Homo sapiens: one gene and its partner. The protein of the gene in region 1 interacts with the protein of each later gene in a pairwise test. Each region holds a gene or a part of one and is shown on either strand. Other genes may lie near its edges.

What was found. The genes of interacting proteins can lie anywhere in the genome.
Region 2: the proteins of MTMR9 (region 1) and DEPDC5 interact in binary tests that used the Homo sapiens proteins (3 or more experiments, as listed by UniProt).

What each region holds. Positions count from the first base shown.
Region 1 is NC_000008.11:11,279,892-11,287,815, reverse strand, and holds the start of MTMR9 (myotubularin-related protein 9), read right to left. Parts: upstream 3,001-7,924; 5' UTR 2,928-3,000; coding exon 2,746-2,927; intron 1-2,745. UniProt on the Homo sapiens protein: Acts as an adapter for myotubularin-related phosphatases. Increases lipid phosphatase MTMR6 catalytic activity, specifically towards phosphatidylinositol 3,5-bisphosphate and MTMR6 binding affinity for phosphorylated phosphatidylinositols.
Region 2 is NC_000022.11:31,756,558-31,764,699, reverse strand, and holds part of DEPDC5 (GATOR1 complex protein DEPDC5), read right to left. Parts: intron 6,155-8,142; coding exon 6,067-6,154; intron 4,045-6,066; coding exon 3,998-4,044; intron 1-3,997. UniProt on the Homo sapiens protein: As a component of the GATOR1 complex functions as an inhibitor of the amino acid-sensing branch of the mTORC1 pathway.

The DNA of each region.
Region 1 (7,924 bases):
TATGTATTATATAATATGTATTATATATAATATATAATAAATATATAATAAATAAATAATAAATATATAAGAAAATAATATATAATATATAATATATATTATAATATATATAATATATAATAAACATAATAAATATAAATATATCTAATAAATATATATATTTATTTCTGGACTTGCTTGATTGTCCATCTCCCTGGCCAGTACCTAAGCATCTTGTCTTAGTCACCACTGCAGCCGCACAGCTCAGACAATGCACGTGGAAAACAGGTGGATGTAAAGATTTCTTGAAAGCAGCAATTTAACAAACTCTGATCTGATGCCTCCCCTATGCTCTTTCACTACACCACGCTGCTTCCCAGGAAAAGGATAAATGTGTGTACAGTTCGTCATTCTCTCCTAACAGATTCAAAGGTCCATGGCTCATCTGCTTCTTCTTCATGTACTACAAAGCCCAGCACCTTGTAAATGCAAGGTAAAAAGGAGGAAACAAATGAGCGCAAAGTAACCACCATAAAAGGTAAATAAGAAAGGAAAGGTAGTTGATGGTCATGGAGAAACTACTCAGTTGTATTCAACGGCATCTGACCATTCAGCGGTCAATCCTTCTTTTGTTTCCTACGCGTCTATATGCCCAAGCCACAGTTAGACGTTTCGAAGGAGATAAAAATGAATTCCAGTTGTGGAATTAACAGAAGAATTTGTGAAGGAGGTAGCGGTCGAAATGGTTAAACTGAATACTCATAGACAGGTAACAGGCTCATTGCCTGTGAACTCCTGAAAGACAAGAACTGTAACATATTTTATTTACCTTGGTGTCTTAAATGCCTAACAAAACGTCCAGAACATAAAGGCATTTGGCAAATGTTAAACAAACTTGGGAGAGGCAAGGCATTCCAGCAGAAGGAAGAAGTCAATAAAATACACAGATGACAGAATACAGGACATATACCAGCACCAGTAAATAGTGAGGACTGGCTGGTAAAAAGCGTTCATGAAAGCAAGTGCAAGAAAGGCTCGTTAAAAGAAATGGCAAGAAATAAAGTGAGAAAGTAGGATAGGGCCGAGACACAGAATGCCATGAATGACTGAGGGGTTTAGATTTTCAATGAGAGACCACTGAAGACTTTTTTTTTTTTTTTTTTTTTTTTTGAGATGGAGTTTTGCTCTTGTTGCAAAGGAAGGAGTGCAGTGGCCCGATCTCGGCTCACTGCAACCTCTGCTTCCAAGGTTCAAGCGATTTTTCCGCCTCAGCCTCCTGAGTAACTGGGATTACAGGCACCTGCCACTATGCCCGGTTAATTTTTTGTATTTTTAGTAGAGACGGGCTTTCATCATGTTGGTCAGGCTGGTCTCAAACTCCTAACCTCAGGTGATCCGCTCACCTTGGCCTCCCAAAGTGCTGGGATTACAGGCGTGAGCCACCGTGCCGGGCCCACTGAAGACTTTATACAGCAAAAGGTGGCTTGAGGAGACTAATAAGAGCCCCCTGCTCATATCAATCAATCAATCTACCATGGCTTCACCCAAACTGCCTGCAATTCTACCATTAGAAATTTTTATTTTAGGCCAGGCGCAGTGGCTCACGCCTGTAATCCCAGAACTGTGGGAGGCCTAGGCGGGAGGATTGCGAGGTCAGGAGTTCAAGACCAGCCTGGTCAATATGGTGAAACCCCATCTCTACTAAAAAATACAAAAATTAGCCGGGTGTGGTGGCGCGTGCCTGTAATCCCAGCTACTCGGGAGGCTGAGACAGAAGAATCGCTAGAACCTGGGAGGTGGAGGTTACAGTGAGCCGAGATTGGCCACCGCACTCCAGCCTGGGCAATACAGTGAGATTTCGTCTCCAAAAAAAAAAAAAAAAAAAAAAGAAAGAAAGAAAGAGATTATTATTTTAAGGCATATCCTCTGTACGAATCTTCCTAATATCCAAATTATCCTGTGAGGCAATAGAAAATGTTGTCGTCATTCATTTATACTTCTGTGTAAAACGGATAATCAGTTTGCCCTCTCCTGGCTAGCGAGTAGCCACTAAGGAGATGGGAATTTTGAATGCAGATGAAAGTTTAACTTTTTGACTTCGAGGCACTGCCTTGGAAAGATAAAGTCTGGAGTACAAAAAGAAAAAAGAGGTTAACTGGTCCATGCCTTTCCTTGAGAGCCAACCCTGTTCTTTCAGCAAGCAGAATTGAGTAAAGATGAAGAGAAGACATCAGAATCTCCCTTAGTGAGAATTAAATTTTGATGACCCAGAAGGTAAGAAATAATATGATACACTGAACATTTTTCAGAAATTAAAAAAATGGTTCTGTAGCATGTAGACACTCATAACTTTATAATCTGTTTAGTTTTCCTCAGAAATGGTAAAGACTTTACCTAAATCACATCCAATCACTTCATGAACGGTGACTGACAATACCAATTCAAGGAATACGATGGGGCAAGAAGAAGAAGAAATTTATAAAGACAATGCCGAAAATCCACCCAAATGGTGTTACGAACCAGAAATGATCATCAGGATGGTACCAGCCACACGATAACCCTGAGAACTCCATCCAGGTTTAATGGAAACCGGGTCCTCCATCTGGACGGGTTTCAGCTTGGTAAATCCTGATTCTAGGCCACAGAGGGCTCATCTTGCCGGCTAGCTGGGCGGCAGGCTGCGCGGAAAACGCCAGGAAGTATTTCCCGGGGCGCCCACAAGGGACCCCCGGCTCCCTGCGGAGCTGGGGTGGGGCGGGCACTCACCGCTTGTCGATGGCGTCGATGTTTGAATGGAGGAGCCACAGCTCCTCCGTATTGTCCTGCCGGGAGGACAGGATCAAGTGGTGGCCCGTCAGGCACAGGGTGCCCTCGACAGCCGGGTAGAAAGGCCGGTGCAGCACCACATTGTCCACCCGCGGGGTCTTAATCAGCTCCGCAAACTCCATGCTCCCCCGCGGCCGGAGCCAGGGAACCGAGCCCGGTAGGTGCGAGGCGGTTACCCCGCCGCAGGGAAGTAGCGGAAACACCCGGCGCGGGGCTGGCCCGTGGGGCGGGGCGGGCCGGGCGGTGAGGCTGGGCCCGCCCCAGGCTGGGTGGGCGCGGCGAGGCCTACAGCCGCCGGCACCGGCCGCGGGGAGACAGGGGCTGGGGCTGGACGAGGCCCAAGCGCCTCTCCCGCACCGCGCGGTTCACCAGGCCTAGGACTCGGCCACAGAGAACCCCTCTCCACAGGCCCAAGGACCGCCGCTGCCGTTGGGCTCCGGGTCCCGCGTTGGCAAGCGGAGGGCAGTAGGAGAAAGCCGCCTCAGAATCCGCTTCCACGCCCTGGCCGCTAGGGACTCCTAGCGGAAGTGGCTACTCGCTGCTGGAGCCCACAACAACTCCGGGCGGAAGCAGCAGGTCTCGAAACTCGGAAGACGCGGAAGTCGCAGCCGGAAGTTGGTCCTCGCTAGGTCCTCTGGAAATGCCTCCGGAAACACAGCCAGACCAGAAGATGTGTGTTCCTACGAGAAAAAAAGCTTGTCTTTGCCTTCACGCCCTCCCGCTGCCTTTCTTAACCACCTACAAATATTCCTTATCAGAAGAGGTCCGGGAAGAGGGAGGAGGTCCCTGTCTTGCCTTCCTCCGCTTGAGTAGTATCCCCTCCAGAAGCTCTTCAGAGCGTGGGGCTGCTGTAAATTGTGATAATTGTTATGCATTAGCCCTGAAGACATGGCAAGTAGGGGATGGAGGCGGTGACTGTGACCTTACGGAATCCTCCAGGGGTCAGGGAGGGACACAGGGCCACTCCACAGGCTCTCCGAGAGCGCCGCGCCACGAGGTGTAACCTGGAGCAAGAAAGAGGAAAAACAGGAATACCTGTGAGAGGAACCCAAGTACATGCAGTGCACAGAAGAGCAAGTCACTTGACTTGCTGGCGGCCACCCCGTTAATCTGCAGCAGAGCCTGGACTTCAGTCTGCATCTGTGAAACCCAGCGCATGGGTGCGTTGGTCACCACCGCACAGCCTCCCCGTCAGACACCCACGTTTCGCCAAAAATTTATTCAAATAATTACTCCTTTGCTTGTTCCTTTCCCACCGCCCACTTCTGACATTTTTATTCAAAAGTAGGAAATAGAAGAGAAATATGTTTGAGTGCTGGTCTGCTGTGACTTCATTGACCTTTTAAATCCTCACCATCTAGTACCTAAGCACAGCGAGTTGGACAAACTCTCACAGTATTCACAAAGTAAATTGCCACAACCTCATCAGCTCATCCAACACTTGTCCATGCTTTTGATTTTGTCCTTCTTAAAATGTACCCTTCTTAAAATAAACCACTTTATAGACTTGTTTTAAGTGAGATACGTAAATGCCTACCAACTTTCCTTGGTGTCTTTGTTGCATAGTTACTGTAGACTGAATAATAGTTGCCATTTTTTATATTTTTGCAGTTTAATTGCTTTCGTCCAAATAGATGGAATCACTTCCTTTGTAATATATGAAGTGTTTTAATTCATTTTTATAACTAGCATTCCTGACAGCACAGGTATCCACCCCCTGAAGTTCCCATTCTATAGAACAAAATAGCAAATAAGTATTTTTTTTTTGTTCCATAATGGACACCCAGTATACACCCAGTATACACAGGGACACCGCATACAGGGAATCAGCTTTATTTTACAACAGAGCTTCACTTTACCCCTCTGGCAATTAATAGATTCTGGGTATTTATTAAGAACTTTAAATTTAATGCAAAGACTGTTAAATACCACCAGCTCAGCTCTGGCAAAGGACTGTTGGCTTTGTTTATCTCCTATCTTCATCCAGATACACTGCCATCCCTATCCCAGCCCGATCTTGGGTCCTTGAAAAAAATGACCTATCATTCCAACTACCAGGGAGGAACTCCCTTTGAATTAATGAATCTGGATGACTTATAAGACTTCAAAAGTATGGAAATGACAAAGGTTAAAATGACAGGATGAGCAGTAAACCCTCTCCAGTCCAATCAGAGCAACCTTTTTGAGGGTGCATTCCCACAGAAACCCATTAGGGGCCCAACATCAACATACACAGAGCTAAAATTCCAGATGCCACTTTGTATTGAAAGAAGCCAAAATTCTGTTCAGGTCGTGGGAACTTGAAGTCTTCAATGCAACCACACCCCAGAAATTAACCCTCACACAATCATGTAAGCTATGCAATTAACCAAACTGCATCGTTTAGAAAACCTGTATGCTTTTCATGGAAACCATCCCTAGTTAAGGGCACTTTAAAGGATGCACAGTCTAAGTACTGTGAAGGTGGGCCCACTAGCTGGGTTGACATTTTCGCTTGGCCACTTTAGTAGGAAACTTAACCACTTGGGAAAGTGAAAACAACAAGCTAACCCACATGTTCACCATGGAAAACAATTTTTGTCTTGAAAAACAAGGAACCTTTTCCCTGTGCAGCACCAGTTCCTACTGTGTTTACCAGCCAATTGGACTGGAACCTGTACACTTGGTTTTTAGCCTCCGAAATCAATATAGCTCCCGGCCGGGCGCAGTTTCTCACGCCTATAATCCCAGCACTTTGGGAGGCCGAGGCAGGCGGATCACCTGAGGTCAGGAGTTCGAGACCAGCCTGGCCAACATGCTGAAACCCTGTTTCTACTAAAAATACAAAAAATTAGCCGGGTATGGTGGCGCACACCTGTAATCCCAGCTACTCTGGAGACTGAGACAGGAGAATCACTTGAACCCTGGAGACAGAGGTTGCAGTGAGCCAAGACTGAGCCACTGTGCTCCAGCCTGGGTGACAGAGGGAGACTGTCTCAAAACAAACAAACTATATATATATGTGTATATATATATATATATTTAGAGAGAGAGAGGGAGAGCTCTCAACAACCAATCCCTCATTATACCTTTAACTGCAACCGCCAGACACAAATGAGCAATCCAACTCAAACGCCTTTTTGTTGGGCTAGGAATAACAGTGAGAGCAGGAACGGGAGTTACCGGGCTTGCAACTTCCCTATACTGTTACCAGCACTTTCCAAGGATTTTGTGGAAAGCTTGGATGACATTGCCCAAAGTATCGTCACAACACAAACTCAAACAGACTCCTTGGCAGCAGTTGCTTTACAAAATAGAAGGGGACTGGATCTCCTAACTGCTGGAAAAGGTGGCTTATGTCTTTTTCTAGAGGAAGAATGCTGTTTTTATGTCAACCAATTAGAATTAGTAAGGGATGCCACCCAGAAATTAGCTGACCAGGCTTCTAAGATACGACAACAGCTGTCCAAGTCGTGGTCCTCCTGTTCAAAAATGCTAATTAGGGGTTCATGAGTCCTTCCTCTGACTGGCTCGTTGTTAATTATACTTGCCTTGGTTTTTGGACCATATTTATTAAATACATTAACCAAATTAATTTCCTCTCGCCTAGAGACCATCAAGCTTCAGATGATCATGCAACAAGGTTTCCAGCCAGTTCAGGTGAAGACACCACTACTGGCCATCAAGAAGCTACCCTGTATCCACTAGACAGAGCAGAGTGAGAGTTCTGTGATCCCAAATAGGTAGGCACCGCACCCCAAGTCAGCATGAAGCAGTTACAGAAGAAAGACCATTGGTCCCTCTGCCTCCCATAAAGATTTATGGGGATCATGTCTCACAGCGGGAAAATGAGACAGGAGAATAGGGTCTAGAGGCAGGGAACCTAAGGCCAATTCTCACTGACTTCCTAGAACTGAATCAGAGGGGAAACCCCACCTCTTCACACGAATGTAACGAAAGGATCAGAGGCTACTCCCTTTGCACTGCACTGCAAATGAAAAATGGAAAGTACCTCTGATTGGTCCCCTCCCACAACCATTCAGACTGGTTGCAGGCCAAGTCTTCATGTGTAACTTTGTAACTACCGTCACTTCAGACTCTGATTGGTCACCTCCCATGATCAGTCAGACTTGTGACGGGCCACTCCTTCATTTACATAGGGTGTAACCAAGTAACCAATGGGAAACCTCTAGAGGCTATTTAAACCCCATGCTGCACGATGGCTCACACCTGTAATCCCACCACTTTGGGAGGCTGAGGAGGGTGGATCACAAGGTTAGGAGTTCCAGACTAGCCTGGCCAACCGACATGGTGAAACCCTATCTCTACTAAAATTACAAAAATTAGCCAGGTGTGGTGTGGGCCTGTAATCCCAGCTATTGGGGAGGCTGAAGCAGGAGAATTGCTTGAACCTGGGAGGTGTAGGTTGCAGTGAGCCAAGAATGTGCCACCGCACTCCAGCCTGGGTGACAGAACAAGACTCCGCCTCAAAAAAATAAAAAAATTAAGCCCCAGAAAATTCTGTAACCAGCGCTCTTGAGCCACTTGCTTGAGCCCGCTCCCGCTCTGTGGAGTGTACTTTTGTTTCAGTAAATCTATGCTTTTGTCGCTTCACTTTTTTGTTGCTTTGTTTGTGAATTTTGTCCAATTCTTTGTTCAAAATGCCAAGAACCTGGGTGATTTGTAGTCAGTACTCTCCACCAGTAACAATAATATTGTTGCACCTGAGAGTCCAGTCTAAAAACAAGAACCAACAGAGTAGGGAAGATGAGGGGGGATGATTTACAAAGTTATTTTTTTAAACTGGAGTTTTTGACTTTCTTCATTTATGTGGATAAGTTATAACAATTACCAATTGTGGAATGAAGAATTTAATTACAGAGTGAAGAATCAGGGAACGTTTTATGGAGAAGGTATCATTTGAAAACAGGACCTTGAAGGATGAGGGTCACACTCTGAATGGAATGTGGCCGACAGAGATGTCCAATTTAGTGATATCTCCTAGAGGTGGGGATGCATTTTTCAGTAATTCCATTACCTTTTTCTTTTAGTTTCTTTATGTGGGGGGAGGCACATGAAAAGCTCATGGTTTCATTAAGTGAAAAATGTTTACTTTTCTATAACACCATGAACTTTTTTG
Region 2 (8,142 bases), on another chromosome or scaffold:
TAACACCTGTAATCTCAGCACTTTGGGAGGTCTAGGCAGGAAGATCACCTGAGGTCAGCAGTTCGAGACCAGCCTGGCCAACATGGTGAAACCCTGTCTCTACTAAAAACACAAAAATTAGCCAGGCATGATGGTGGGCGCCTGTAATCCAAGCTACTTGGGAGGCTGAGGCATACAAATCGCTTGAACCCCAGAGACAGAGGTTGTAGCGAGCTGAGATCGTACCACTGCACTCCAACCTGGGTGACAGAATGAGACTCTGTCTCAATAAATAAATAAATTAAATAAGAAGGAAGATAAGAAAGTTCAAAGACCTGTAAAACTCCAGAAGAGAAAGGAGATCTTCTCTTTGGAATGAAGTTATCAGTGGTAAAGAAGAAACAAATTTTTCAATGAGCCCTTAAGTCTGGTAAGAAACGTAACATGGGGCAGGAGATAAGGGGAAGGTATGAAGGCCATTCTTAGGATTAAGGTTTTATAGAATTCTTTTAAAATCTTTAAATTGGCTGCATGTGGTGGCTCAGCAGATCATGAGGTCAGGAGTTCAAGACCAGCCTGACCAACATGGTGAAACCCCGCCTCTACTAAAAATACAAAAAAAATTTAGCCAGGTGTCGTGGTGCGCACCTGTAGTCCCAGCTACTCAGGAGGCAGAGGCAGGAGAATTGCTTGAACCTAGGAGGTGGAAGTTGCAGTGAGCCAAAATCACACCACTGCACTCCAGCCTGGGCGACAGAGGGATACTCCATCTCAAAATAACATAACATAACATAACAAACATAACATAACATAACATAAAAAACATAACACCACACAACATAACAATAAAAATGAAAACTTTAAATTTTTTTTTTACTGCTCCTTGCAGAGCAGGGATAACCCATAGGCAGCGTAACCAGAGTAGCCAGGTTTTATAGAATGTTTTCTCCTCAAATTGAAATATTGAATTGTTAAATATGAGTGGATAGCCAGGCATGGTGACTCATGCCTGTAATCCTAGCACTTTAGGAGGCCAAGGCATGAGGACTGCTTGGGCCCAGGAGTTCAAGACCAGCCTGAGCAAAAATTAAAAAAAAAAAAATTAGCCAGGCATGATCCTGTGGGCTGGGCGTCTGGGGTCTTAGCTACTCGGGAGGCGGAGGTGGGAGATGGAGAATCATTTGCACCCAGGGAGGTTGAGGCTGCAGTGAGCCGTGACTGCACCACTGCACTCCAGTCTGGACAACAGAGAGAGGCCCTGTCTGAAAGGGAAAAAGAAAAAAAAAAAAGGCAGGGGCAATGGTGCAGTGGCTCACGCCTGTAATCCCAGGACTTTGGGAGGTTGAGGCAGGCAGATCACCTGGGGTGAGGAATTTGAGACCAGCCTGGCCAACATGGTGAAACCCCATCTCTACTAAATATATAAAAATTAGGCCGGGCATGGTGGCTCATGTCTGTAATCCCAGCACTTTGGGAGGCCGAGGAGGGCGGATCACGAGGTCAGCAGTTCGAGACTAGCCTGGACAACATAGTGAAACCCTGTCTCCACTAAAAATACAAAAATTAGCCAGGTGTGGTGGCGTGCACCTGTAATCCCAGCTACTGAGGAGGCTGAGGCAGGAGAATCCCTTGAATCCAGGAGGCGGAGGTTGCAGTGAGCTGAGACCATGTCATTGCGTTCCAGCCTGGGTGACAGAGTGAGACTCCATCTCAAAAAAATAAAAATATAAATATAAAAATTAGCCAGGCATGGTGGTGCACGCCTGTAGTCCTAACTACCTGGGAGGCTGAGGCAGGAGAATCACTTGAACCCAGGAGGCGCAGGTTGCAGTCAGCCAAGATTGTGAGACTGCACTCCAGACTCCAGCCTGGGCAACAGAGTGAGACGCCATCTCTTTAAAAAAAAAGAAAGAGTGGGTGACATCAAAGCCCTTTATTTTATTTATTTATTTATTTAGAGACAGAGTTTTGTTCTTGTTGCCCAGGCTGGAGTGCAATGGCGTGATCTCAGCTCACCACAACTTCTGCCTCCCAGATTCAAGCAATTCTCCTGCCTCAGCTTCCCGAGTAGCTGAGATTACAGGCATGCGCCACAATGCCTGGCTAATTTTATATTTTTAGTAGAGACGGGGTTTTACCATGTTGGTCAGGCTGGTCTCAAACTCCTGACCTCAGGTGATCCACCTACTTCAGCCTCCCAAAGTGTTGGGATTACAGGCGTCAGCCACTGCACCCAGCCATCAAAGCCCTTTAGAGCAACCCAGAATTTTGTTTTTTTCTCTTAAGAACTATTTAAAAGAGTATCTTATTTACTTTCAATTAACATTTTGGTTCCTTGAACAGCATGGCATAGCCATTAGAGGGAAAAAGAAAGGATTTGAATCCAGAATAAGTAAGCAGGAATCACTGCTTCTGGCTACGCCTAGACTGTATAGTCCGGCAGATAATAAACTTCCTCACTCACTCAAGAGTTGTTGGGAAGATAATGCTAGATTACACAAAGCTCCCAGGATAGTACCTTGCACAATGTGGTGGGCGATCATCAATATATATTTCTTCCTCCCCAATCCCTACTCACCCAGAGTAGGCATTTAACAAATAGTTTGTGAAAAAATGGGACAGATGTGGTGGATCACACCTGCAATCTTAGCACTTTGGGAGGTCAAGGTGTCAGGAACTCCACTTGAGGCCAGGAGTTCAAGACCAACCTGGGCAACAGGCAGGTTGTGTATTTTTTTTTTTTTTTTTTTTTTGAGCCGGAGTCTCGCTCTGTCGCCCAGGCTGGAGTGCAGTGGCGTGACCTCGGCTCACTGCAACCTCCGCCTCCCGGGTTCAAGTAATTCTCCTACCTCGGCCTCCAGGGTAGCTAGGATTATAGGTGCATGCCACCACACCCGGCTAATATTTTGTATTTTAGTAGAGACAGGGTTTCACCGTTTTGCCCAGGCTGGTCGCAAACTCCTGAGCTCAGGCAATCCGCCTGCCTCAGCCGCCCAAACTCCCAGGATTACAGGCATAAGCCACCGTGCCTGGCCTATTTTTTTTTTTTTTTTTTTTTGAGATAGGGTCTTGCTCTGTTGACCAGGCTAGACTGCGGTGGCACCGTTATAGCTCATTGAAACCTCAAACTCTTGGGACCCAATGATCCTTCCACCTCAGCCTCCAGAGTAGCTAGGACTATAAGCGTCACTTTACAATTTTTTTTTTAGTGGCAACATAGTTTGATAAGAAGAGAACTACAGTCATAAAAAAATGGAATCATGTCCACTGCAGCAACATGGATGGAGTTGGAGGCCACCATTATCCTAAGTGAACTAACTCACAAACAGAAAACCAAATACTGCATGTTCTTACCTATAAGTGGGATGGAAATAATAGACACTTGGGACTCCAAAAACAAGGACAGGGAAGAGAATGAAGGTTGAAAAATACAATGTTCAGGCTGGGTGTGGTGGCTCACGCCTGTAATCCCAGCACTTTGGGGGGCCAAGGCAGGAGGATCATGAAGTCAGGAGATTGAGACCATCCTGGCTAACACGGTGAAACCTCGTGTCTACTAAAAATACAAAAAATTAGCCAGGCGTGGTGGCAGGTGCCTGTAGTCCCAGCTACTTGGGAGGCTGAGGGAGGAGAATGGTGTGAACCCAGGAGGCGGAGCTTGCAGTGAGCCGAGATCGCGCCACTGCACTCCAACCTGGGTGACAGAACAAGACACTGTCTCAGAAAAAAAAAAAAAAACAATGTTAAGACACAGATACAACATTCTTTATCTGTATCTGTTCTGTCAGATACAAGGTTCACTGTGTAATGGATACAATAGAAGCCCAATCCCCACCAGTACACAATATACCCATGTAACAAACATTCCCATGTACTGCCTGAATTGAAAGTTAAATTAAAATTTGTTTAAAAAAGAAGAGAATTACTTGCCCTCATCCCTTGAAATTATGAAGAGAGATTTCTTACAGTTTCTGAGGCAGTAAATAAAAAATTCTAAGAAGAGTGATATAATTCTTACCCTTCTGTAAATCTTCCTTAAGAGACTTGACCTGCAAAAGCAGAGGGCTGAAAAAGAAAGCAACAAGAGAGTTGGGATACCGTGAACAGTAACTCCCTAGCAACCTTCATCCCCGACAAAAGGCAAATAGGTCACTCTGGCCATTCTGTGACTTACAGCACAACAACGGGAGAAAGCTCCCTCAGAAACAAAGAAACTCGGCCAGGTGCGGTGGCTCACGCCTGTAATCCCAGCACTTTGGGAGGCCGAGGCAGGTGGACCACGAGGTCAGGAGATCGAGACCATCCTGGCTAACACGGTGAAACCCCTTCTCTACTAAAAAATAGAAAAAATTAGGCCGGGTGTGGTGGCTCATGCCTGTAATCCCAGCACTTTGGGAGGCCGAGACGGGCGGATCATGAGGTCAGGAGATCGAGACCATCCTGGCTAACACAGTGAAACCCCGTCTCTCCTAAAAATACAAAAAAATTAGCCGGGCATAGTGGTGGGCGCCTGTAGTCCCAGCTACTTGGGAGGCTGAGGCAGGAGAATGGCGTGAACCCGGGAGGTGGAGCTTGCAGTGAGCCAAGATTGTGCCACTGCACTCCAGCCTGGGCGACAGAGCAAGACTCCGTCTCACAAAAAAAAAAAAAGAAACAAAGAAACTCCATACGCACTAAAGGAAATGGACAAATGCTACAGAACCTTTCAGTTGTCATCTCAGCTTTAAAACCAGAAAGAGGCTGGGCTCGGTGGCTCATGCCTATAATCCCAACACTTTGGGAGGCCAAGGCAGGTGGATCACCTGAGGTCAGGAGTTCGAGACCAGCCTGGCCAACATGACGAAACCCTGTCTCTATTAAAAATACAAAAATTAGCCAGGTGTGGTGGCCCACACCTGTAGTTCCAGCTACTCGACAGGCTGAGGCAGAAGAGTCACTTGAACCCAGGAGGCAGAGGTTGCAGTGAGCCGAGGTGGCACCACTGCACTCCAGCCTGGGTGACAGAGCGAGACTCTGTCTCTTAAAAAAAAAAAAAAAAAAAAAAGGCTGGGCGCGGCAAGGTAGCTCATGCCTGTAATCCTAGCACTTTAAGAGGCCAAGGCAGGCGGATCACGAGGTCAGGAGTTCGAAACCAGCCTGACCAACATGGTGAAACCCCGTCTCTACTAAAAATACAAAAATTAGCCAAGCATGGTGGCACGCGCCTGTAATCCCAGCTACTCAGGAGGCTGAGGCAGGAGAATGGCTTGAACCCGGAAGACAGAGATTGCAGTGAGCCAAGATCCCACCACTGCACTTCAGCCTGGGTGACAGAGTGAGATTTCATCTCAAAAAAAACAAAAAAAAACAAAAAAAACAAAAAAAACGGCTCGGTATGGTGGCTCATGCCTGTAATCTCAGCACTTTGGGAGGCCTAGCAGGATGGATGACTTGAGACAAGCCTGGACAATATGGTGAAACCCCATCTCTACTAAAAAACACAAAAATTAGGCCAGGTGCGGTGCCTCATACCTGTAATCCCAGCACATTGGGAGGCCAAGGCCAGTGGATTACCTGAGGTCAGGAGTTCAAGACCAGCCTGGGCAACATGGTGAAACCCTGTCTCTACCAAAAATGCAAAATTAGCTGGGCGTGATGGCGCATGCCTGTAATCTCAGCTACTCGGGAGGCTGAGCCTGTAATCTCAGCTACTCAGGAGGCTGAGGCAGGACAATCACTTGGGGCTGGGAGGCAGAGGTTGCAGTGAGCTGAGATTACACAACTGCACTCTAGCCTGGGTGACAGAGCTAGACTCCATCTCAAAAAAAAAAAAACGAAGGAATGGACCACTTTTGAAAAATTATTTGTTGATCAAATCCTAGAAGGCATGATCATTTTTTTTTAAGACAGGGTCCCTCTATGTTGCCCAGGCTGGTCTCGAACTCCCGGGCTCAAATGACCTACCCACCTCAGCCTCCCAAAGTGCTGGAATTACAGGATTGAGCCATCACAGCATGAGCATTTTGAAAGGCAAAGAGAGCTATCTGCCTTGGACATCATTTGGAAACAGTGAATTGCCCAGTTCCATGGATCCTATGAGACACTCACCTGTATTCATCGTTGGGGTGTGCAATCTCTACAATGTCTCCAAGCTTGATGTGAGGGAACACTTTGGGGTTCACAACTAGCTCATCATCTGAAAGACAATTCAGCCACTTCAAGTAGAAAAACACTCATTAGGTACACTGTATGTTCTCATACTGGTTCCTCACAACCCCATCAGGATGGTATTGCCACCCCATTGACAGATGAGGTTCTATTTTGAAACGAGGCTTACAATGACTAATGGATTCACACAGGAACACCAAGCTACACAGCAGCAGAGTGGGATGGCGCTCAGGTACCTTTGTCTCCATACCCTGTGCCCTTTCTACTACCGCACTGCTTCCAGGGGCAGAGCAGCCCTTAGTATCTGGGAATTAGGCTTCTGGACAGCCTTTTACCCCCTCAAATATTGTGTATCTGGCATATAACAGGAACAAAACAGGCTGGTTCCCACAGATACAGCACAATTCGTTACAGTTATTCAATGTTCAAAGAATTTCCCAAACAGTGTCTTAATGTGACCGTCACAATAAATCTTTAGATCTAACAGGAGTAAGAAAATAACCTCAGAGAGTCCAGGAGCAGTGGCTCATGCCTGTAATCCCAATACTTTGAGAGGCCGAGATGGACAGATCACCTGAGGTCAGGAGTTCAAGACCAGCCTGGCGAACATGGCGAAACCCCGTCTCTACTAAAAATACAAAAATTAGCCAGGTGTGGTGGTGGGAGCCTGTAATCCCAGCTACTTGGGAGCCTGAGGCAGGAGAATCACTTGAACCCGGGAGGCAGAGGTTACAGTGAGCCGAAATCACACCACTGCACTCCAGCCTGAGTGACAGAAAGAGACTGCATCTCAAAAAAATAAATAAATAAAATAAGAGGGATGTGGTTTCATGTTTATCTACCCCTGCCCCTCTACTAGGGATGGGGAGAACTCTATCAAATATTGCAAACTCAGAAGCATAAAGACAGAATGACTGTTTTGCTGTTTTAATTTGCAAGGAAAGACATCACCTTTAATTATGCTAATATCATGACAATTAAGTTTATCTAGATTTCAAATATAATCAGACCCAACAAAAATTTAGCCTAGTAAAATGAAACATTGGCTTACTCCCAAATTTTTTTGTTTTCTTTTAGAGATAAGGTCTTGCTGTTGCCTAGGCTGGCGTACAGTGGCTATTTACAGGGACAATCCCACTGCTGATCAGCACAGGAGTTTTGACCTGCTCTGTTCCCAACCTGAGGTGGTTCACACTTCCTAAGGCAAGCTGGTGGTCCCCCACTCCTGGGAGGTCACTATATTGATGCAGAACTTAGTGCAGACACCCAATCAGCATAATGTACTATAGTCTGGAACTCCTGGGCCCAAGTGATCCTCCTGTCCCAGCCTCTTGAGTAGCTGTGACTACAGGCATACACCACTGCACCCAGCAATCCCTAATTTTATTTGCTATGTTTCCACTGACAGTTTCACGACAAATGCTCTTTGGAGCTTCCTCCCTAATTTACATAGTCTGAATTAAGGTCCCTGAGAACATATCCCCTTCTGCTTGGTTTTATCATTTCCTTTTTGCATGTCTATCTTACCAAACTGAAAACTCTTTAGGGACAAAGAACCTTGTGGCATTCATAATCATTACGTCTGGCACAGGTATACACCTAATAAATATCTGTTGGTTGTTTCTTTTTTTTTTATTATTTTTTATTTTTTTAAAGACAGGGTCTTGCTCTATTGCCCAGGCTGGAGTGTAGTGGCATGATCTCGGCTCACTGCAACCTCTGCCTCCTGGGTTCAAGCAATTCTCGTGCCTCAGCCTCCCTAGTAGCTGAGATTACAGGCACGCACCACCACACCTGGCTAATTTTTGTATTTTTAGTAGAGATGGGGTTTCACTATGTTGGCCAGGCTGGTCCTGAACTCCTGACCTCATGTGATCTGCCCACCTTGACCTTCCAAAATGCCAGGATTACAGTCATGAGCTACCATGTCCAGCTGTTAGTTGTATTTTGACCTATAGTCTTGCAGAAGACTGGATACAGCATCTAACTACCTTTGTATTTTATACATAAAAACAT